Linked DNA regions of Homo sapiens. The protein of the gene in region 2 purifies or fractionates together with the protein of the main gene of each other region. This does not show direct contact. Each region holds a gene or a part of one and is shown on either strand. Other genes may lie near its edges.

What was found.
Region 1: the proteins of TRIM16 (region 2) and DEPTOR purify together in Homo sapiens (affinity purification with western blotting, with the first as the bait; one study listed by BioGRID). This does not show direct contact.

The regions. Positions count from the first base shown.
Region 1 is NC_000008.11:119,872,393-119,876,666, reverse strand, and holds the start of DEPTOR (DEP domain-containing mTOR-interacting protein), read right to left. Parts: upstream 2,946-4,274; 5' UTR 2,821-2,945; coding exon 2,699-2,820; intron 1-2,698. UniProt on the Homo sapiens protein: Negative regulator of the mTORC1 and mTORC2 complexes: inhibits the protein kinase activity of MTOR, thereby inactivating both complexes. DEPTOR inhibits mTORC1 and mTORC2 to induce autophagy.
Region 2 is NC_000017.11:15,677,734-15,681,544, forward strand, and holds part of TRIM16 (tripartite motif-containing protein 16), read right to left. Parts: intron 3,221-3,811; coding exon of another isoform or gene 3,132-3,220; intron 1-3,131.

The DNA.
Region 1 (4,274 bases), on a different chromosome or scaffold from region 2:
CCCATCCTTCTTCTTCTTTTTTTTTTTTTGAGATGGAGGCTCACTCTGTTGCCCAGGCTGGAGTGCAGTGGCACTGTCTTGGCTCACTGCAACCTCTGCCTCCCAGGTTCAAGCAATCCTCTCACCTCAGCCTCCCAAGTAGCTAGGATTACAAGCATGCACCACCACACCCGGCTAATTCTTGTATTTTTAGTAGAGATGAGGTTTCACCATGTTGGTCAGGCTGGTCTTGAACTCCAGACCTCAAGGGATCCGCCTGCCTTGGTCTCCCAAAGGGCCAGGATTACGGGCATAATCACTTGTCCAAGGTCCCACACTAGTAAGTAGCAAAGCCAAGATTCAGTCTAGCTTAAAGTCTTCCTTGAAACAACTTAATGCTGACACTTGCCTACATAATGGTGGAGCAGTCATTCAAACCCAGGTCTAATTCCTGCATGACAAGGATGGCTCTCAAAACTGCTGCAGTGCAGAGAGGCGCTAGAAAAGTGGGGAATAACAAGTGCTCTGGGGACTGCAAGGAAGAGGCATTTAAACTGCATCTTGAAGGAAAAAGTACTTGCTGGACAAAAAGAGCCATCATGCAATTTAATATTTGTAAAATAAATGAAAAATAAGTAACCCTATCCAACAGAAGACTTTTAAAAAGATGGCCCAGTAATGAAGAGCAGAGAAATTAAACTTTCTTTCCCACAGTAGGCTTTAAAGGGACTGAAGCCTGTTATCACTCGCCTGCTACAGCTTGGGCTTCTAAAGCCTACAAACTCTCCTTACAATTCCCCCATTTTACCTGTCCCAAAACTGGACAAGTCTTACAGGTTAGTTCAGGTTCTGCACCTTATCAACCAAATTGTTTTGCCTATCCACCCTGTGGTGCCAAACCTGTACACTCTTTTGTCCTCAATACCTTCCTCCACAACTCACTATTCCATTCTTGATCTTAAAGATGCCTTTTTCACTATTCCCCTGCACCCCTCGTCCCAGCCTCTCTTTGCTTTTACCTGGACTGACCCTGACACCCATCAGTCCCAGCAGCTTACCTGGGCTGTACTGCCGCAAGTCTTCAGGAACAGCCCTCATTACTTCAGCCAAGCCCTTTCTCATGATTTACTTTCTTTCTACCCCTCTGCTTCTCACCTTATTCAATATATTGATGACCTTCTACTTTGTAGCCTCTCCTTTGAATCTTCTCAGCAAGACACCCTCCTGCTCCTTCAACATTTATTCTCCAAGGGATATCAGGTCTCTTCTTCCTTACTCTACTCTTTACAACAGGGCTTTATGAAGTCACCCCCGCCTTCTTGGACTGCACCTCACAAACTTACACCACTATCCATCATCTACCCAACTCCTATAAAACAACCCCTTCCCCATCTCCCTTTGCTGACTCCGTTTTTAGACTCAGTCCACCTGCACCCAGGTGATTAAAAAGCTTTATTGCTCACACAAAACTTGTTCGGTGGTCTCTTCACACGGGCACCGCGTGACAGGTTTCATTAGAAAGTACTTTTGATGAAGGAAAAAAAGTTTTTATTCCCTTTAATTCTGACCACGTATTTTTAAAAATCAACAAAGAATCGATAGGTGCAATTTGCCTTTTGTAACATTAAAAATCAGTTAATTCTGACTTCCAATATTGGTCTCCTTCAGAGACCTTTGCAAGACACTCTTTCAGGTCCTGAAACACAGACATTTAGAAACCAAAACAAGCTGGGGAATTCAGGCTAAGAACTAGAAGTAACAGGGGCCCGCGTACAAGTTGTGGCTCAAACGCTGCAGAGCTGGGTTTTCTTTTTCCTGGCAAACTGATTTATAACCACACGAAGGGCAGCTGCAGAACCAGTTAGACCATAAGTACTATTCCCAAACAGCCCTAGAGGAAGGACCATACAGGGATGGGAATGGCAAGGGGGATTCTGGGGGTCGTCCTTGTTCCCAAGTTCCGTGAGACGCCGCAAGTCTTAATTCTTGCAGGAGCCAGGGTCCCCATGGATCCTGCTGCCCAAAACGTGCGAGCCCGGGGAGTTGGCACAGCCTCAAGGCAGCCCGACAAGGTGCCTCCACGCCCCCTTGCGGACCCAAATGATTGAGGACGATGTGCCAATTAACTGATAGGTGCAGGGTTTCAGAAATGCTCTCTCAGTTTAACCTCACAAAAAGCCCTTGAATCAGCCCTGTTTTACAGATGTAAAACACCGAGGCTCAGGGGAGTGAAGGAAGACTTGTCAGCAAAAAGGAAAACCTAGTGAAGACTATCGTTGGTCTTGCTCCTTTTATCAAGGAGTAGAGGGGCTGGGGTCGCCTCGGGACCCCACAGCGACCCCTCTTGCTCTCTTCGCGGATGAGGCGCAGGCTGTCAGCCGGGAGGCCTGGCGGCGTCCAGGTACACGGGAAGACGGACAGCGCGGTGGGTGGCAGGGACTTTGCCCGGCACAGGACTGCAGCAGCCAGGCTAGGGCGCAGCGCGCACCACCCGCTCGTCGGCTTCTGCCAGGCAGCCCCGCTTGGCGAGCGAGTCCTCAGGGACCGAGGCTGCAGCAGCTAAGCGCGGGCGCACCGAGGACCATCCACGCGCCCGCAGCCGTTCCGGCGCCCCACGCGAGTCGCAAGCCACGAGCCAGGGAGCGCGTGCGCGCAGGACTGCAGCGGGCACGCGTTGGCAGTGCCATCGTGAGCTCACCCGCTGTGTCTCTTGCCTTACCGTAGCTGTTCCCCGGTGACCAAGACCTCAGCCATGCGCTCCAGCTCCCTTTGCTGCGCCCCGCCACTCCCGCTGGTGCTGCTGTCACTGCCAGCACTGCCAGTGCTGCCGCCCTCCTCCATGGTTTTAGGGCCGTGCGGCTACCACTGGCTCCGCTGTCCGCCGAGGGTTTGGGTGCTCGGATCAGTCTGCCCTCACAGACGCTTCCCGCGCCATCTTTGTTCGGGGCAGCTCCGCTGCTCTGACTGGATTGGCTGGAGAGGGAATCCCTATGGGTAGGCAGACGCGCTGGGCTAGTCCGGCCCCAGAAACTTGAGCTTGGGGGCGTGGCTAGAGCCCCTCATGGTCGGGGGGCGGGGCCGATGGAGGAAAATATAAACATCTGGGCGGGGCGCTGCTACTGAGCTGTGTGTGCTGCTGGAGGCTGAATTTGGTGAGCTCTCTTTACCCACAAAGCTCATGCTGTAGAATCCTGGGGACAGGCCTGGAGGTTATTAGTGTGAAGGCGTTTTTATTGTACGTTCCACACCCCAAGTTGCCAGAGAGCAAAACATAATTCAACAATCTGGCCAAATGGTCAACAGTGAAGGTTATACATGTCATTGAAGGGCATGGAGAAATTAAACATTCTTCTCTCCCCAACCTCTCTCTCCAAAGACGACTTGTTTGCCTTATGTTGTAATCAATAAGGAACGCCGGCCTAGGAATCAGGCTGACCTGGGATCCAGCTCCGCTCCTGTGATGTCCTATTTAAATGTGTTTAATCCTCCCTTACAAAATAAAAATAATTGCGGCTACCACTTTTGACATCTGCTGCATTAAAGATACTTCAGGTATGGTATTACCTCGTTTAATTATTACAATAATTCATAAAATAGGTATTGGTGTTCGTTTTGCATTAGAATGCAGGCTTGGAGAGGTGAAGTTACTTGTCTAAGGCAAGCAAATAATAAGTATAAGAAGAGCCGGGCACCGTGGCTCATGCCTGTAATCCCAGCACTTTGGGAGGCCGAGGCGGGCAGATCACCTGAGGTCAGGAGTTCCAGACCAGCCTGACCAACATGAAGAAACCCCGTCTCTACTAAAAATACAAAATTAGCCGGGCGTGGTGGTGCATGCCTGTAATCCTAGCTACTTCGGAGGCTGAGGCAGGAGAATCGCTCGAACCCGGGAGGCGGAGGTTGCTGTAAGCCGAGTTCGGGTGAGCGGAGTTAGTGCCATTGCATTCCAGCCTGGGCAACAAGAGCGAGACTCCGTCTCAAATCATCATAATAATAATAAGAAGAAATCTAACCGAGGCAATTCTGGCTTCAAAGTTATGCTTTGAAAAGACTGAAAGACTGCCTCTTAAAATGGGGATACAATGGTATTGTCTATCCGTAAAAGATTATGAAAAGAAATTTGATTAGTACCAAATAAATGTTCTGATTTTCTGTTTCATGCAGAGTCGGAGTTGGTCTGCAGGAAGGCGAAGTAATGTTTATGGCAGTATTCATGTGTGTTGAGCATTTATTCTGTGCTTTACATTGTGCCAAACACTTTATCCTCACAAAACCCTGGAGTTTGGTATTATTTT
Region 2 (3,811 bases):
TTACATGAGGCATACTTAGGGGAGACTGATGGGATGGAGAGGAAATAGATTAAACTATGTTCACAGTGTCAAAGACAAGATTTTATTGACTCGTATATTAAAGAATCTTAAAATCTTAAAATGTGTATACCCCTCTGACATAATTTGATAGTTTTGTTTTACAGTAATTTTATATACAGAACTCAATTATAAGAAAACTATCGGCTGGGTGCAGTGGCTCACGCCTGTAATCCCAGCACTTTGGGAGGCCGAGGTGGGCAGATCACGAGGTCAGGAGATCGAGACCATCCTGGCTAACATGGTGAAACCCCATCTCTACTATAAATACAAAAAAAATTAGCCAGGCATGGTGGTGGGCGCCTGTAGTCCCAGCTATTCGGGAGGCTGAAGCAGGAGAATGGCGTGAACCCGGGAGGCGAAGCTTGCAGTGAGCCGAGATCACGCCATTGCACTCCAGCCTGGGCAACAGAACGAGACTGTGTCTCAAAAAAAAAAAAAGAAAACTATCAGAAATATGGAGAGTTATAAACAAAGAATCACATCTATTTATACCTTACAATAGAAAAATAGCAAAATCGTTCTAAATAACCTAAATGTTTGAGAACAGTGCTACGAGCTGCTAACTGTCCATGAAAATATGCCTCCTCCTCTCCTTTCTAGGTATACAAACATTTCCCAACCTCCTGTAGTTAGACCTGGCCATGAGATCCTAACCAATGGAATGCAAGCAGGAGTGATGTGCGCCCTTTCCAGGCCTGACTCACGTATGTTCCTCCATGCTGTTTTCCCCTTCTGACTGGCTGGTAGGGCCATGAGCCCCAGAGTGAGTTTGGAAGCCATATGGTAAAGAGGCTAGAGCTTCAGGTAGCTCAGGTCCCTGAATGGCCATCCTATCAATCTATATACCCACTCACATGGCTATGACAGCAAACAATACACTTCTATTGTATTAAGGCCATATATATTTTGGGTCTATTGGTTACAACAGTTATTAGTAAGCCAACCCAAACTAATTCAGAAATCAGCACCTTCAAGTGGGAGATATCATAATAAAAAGTTCAAATACACAGGTGGCATTGGATTGACAGTCAGGTGGCAAGCTTCAAAGAAAAGAATATTTACGACTGGAGAAATGCAGACTCTCCTTTTTTTTTTTTTTTTTGAGACGGAGTCTCACTCTGTTGCTGGAGTGCAGTGGCCACGATGCTCTCGGCTTACCGCAACCTCCATCTCCCATGTTTAAGCGATTCTCCTGCCTCAGCCTCTTGAGTAGCTGGGACTACAGGTGTGAGCCACCACGCCCAGCTACTTTTTTTTGTATTTTTAGTAGAAACGGGATCTCACCATGTTGTCCAGGCTGGTCACAGACTCCTGACCTCAGGTGATCCGCCCACCTCGGCCTCCCAAAGTGCTGGGATTACAGGCATGAGCCACCGCATCCAGCCAACAGATGCAGACTCTTAATATACACTGGCAAACTAATTAGCAACTATGAGGCCAGGGCAAATGCTCACTGGGCCTGTGGCTCTAGAACAGGTTGGAAAGCACCAGAACGCTCTTTGTGTAGAATGCTCCTGGATATGTCTGGCGAACAAAGAATGAGTTAAGTTCAGGAAACAATGTGTCAATTTTCAAGCCAAAACAAAAGAGAATAGAGTGCAGAAATCTGAGGCCTCACGTGGTTGGAAAAGCAAACTGTTTCTAGATCTCATACAGTGGGAAGTAAGTCTAACAAGAGCTTTGAGCAATAAAGGCCCATTACACCTGTTAACTAAACAAAGTGATTTAGCCCTGTAAAAAAAATGTCAGATTAAGGATGTGGCCTTCCCACCCAAGCCTATTGTTTAGCCGGCCTTAAGGTTATCTTCAGTTAAGTTGAGAGAGACACATGGTAAGTAAGAAACTAAGAAATAGGCCAAGCTGGCCGGGCGTGGTGGCTCACGCCTGTAATCCCAGCACTTTGGGAGGCCGAGGCGGGCAGATCACAAGGTCAGGAGATCGAGACCATCCTGGCTAACACGGTGAAACCCTGTCTCTACTAAAAATACAAAAAATTAGCCGGGCGCGGTGGCGGGTGCCTGTAGTCCCAGCTACTCGGGAGGCTGAGGCAGGAGAATGGAGTGAACCTGGGAGGCGGAGCTTGCAGTGAGCTGAGATCGCGCCACTGCACTCCAGCCTGGGCGAGAGAGCGAGACTATGTCTCAAAAAAAAAAAAAAAGAAAAAAAGAAATAAGCCAAGCTTGAGAATTATATCTAGGAAAGAACTTTGAGTATAAGAAGCCTTTAAGTTTTTGTGGAACAACACCTCTGTGATTTCAATGTACTGACTTTTTTCCTGTGCCAGAGGAATCAGTATCTTGCTTTGATTCTAAGTCATTTATGTCACTAACTTTCTATAAATCTTTCAAGAATTTACTCAGCTTTCAGGGCCCACATCAAATCTCACTACTTTCATTAGCCTAGGAGCTGCTTAAAAGGACTTTAAAATGCTAGTTGAATGAATAAAACCTTCCTAAATCTCTCTCAGCCAGACACATTTGCTCCTGCTCCTCCAAGTCCATACAGCATTTTCCCTAAGACACTTTATATTGAGTAGGCCCTTAATAATAAGGCCCTATTTAATAATAATAAATCTGCTGGTTTGTGCCACACAGATTTGTGTACATCTTTTCTCCCCAAAATATTCTAAGCAGATGCAAGCAAGAAATGCCTCACGTGCCTTTGCATATCTATGCCAAATGTCTCAAGTGAACAAAAAGAAGCTTGATTCTTACCCAACCATGTTCTAGGAGTCACGCTCCTCAATTATCTGCTAAAGAGGCCTCATTCCCATCCTGCCCCTACCATCCTTTCTCTACACTGCCAACTGATGGGCGAGGCTACCAAGCCTCCTGACCTTCACTGCTACTGCCATACAACTGAGGAACACGCAAACACCATCTCATTGGCAGTCCATCCCACCTGCTTGATCCTTTCCTTTCAAACTGCTGTGGCTAATGTGGTTGACAAGCTTCATGCTAAGAGAAAAAAAATTTGCTTCAGGAATTAAAATAAGATTTCTGAGAAGAGAGGAAAATCCCCAACTCAATTAAAATAAAATTTCCAAGAAGAGAGGAAAATCCCCAACTCACCTGGGACTCTGCTGTCCGGCAAAGAGCAGCCATATTTTCCTTCTTAAGATACCCCTTTTGGGAAAGGGCAGGGTCCTCAGAGGGCAGAACTGGAAGGAAATTGACATAAAGGAACCTGGTTTATCTTTATGTATCTCAAACCTATGAATTTAGAAACAGCCACTTATGAGAAAATGTGCCTCTGACCTTGGCTGTCCATAGCTTGAAGGATTTTACAGACATCTATGTAATGAGACTTCAAAGATAATCTCAGAGGATAGAATGAACATAAACTCAGGGAAAGGTATGACCATTAACTGGGCTCAGGATCTGCGTGAGCCACTGCTCTGAAAACGAGGTTCCCTGGGACCAAAAAACCCTAAAACAAAACAAGAAGTGCAATGTTACAGTTGGAGAGGTGCTTAAAGACCTCCAGGCTCAACTCCTTTATTCGCAAATGGAGAAAGTGACCAATTTTGTAGAACAAGAAAAAGGGAGTCACAGCAGCAAAAGACAGCAGTGCCCACCCCAGCAGTCATGGTCACAGACACCTTTAGCCACCCCATCGTGAGTATTCCAGGCCCACGGTGAGTCTGTGGCCATCTCAGGCCTGTTAACACCACACACGCTCCACTAAATTGTATGTGTCGTATCATTCACCACTGCATCCTAAGCACTGAGCACGGTGTACTTGGCAGACA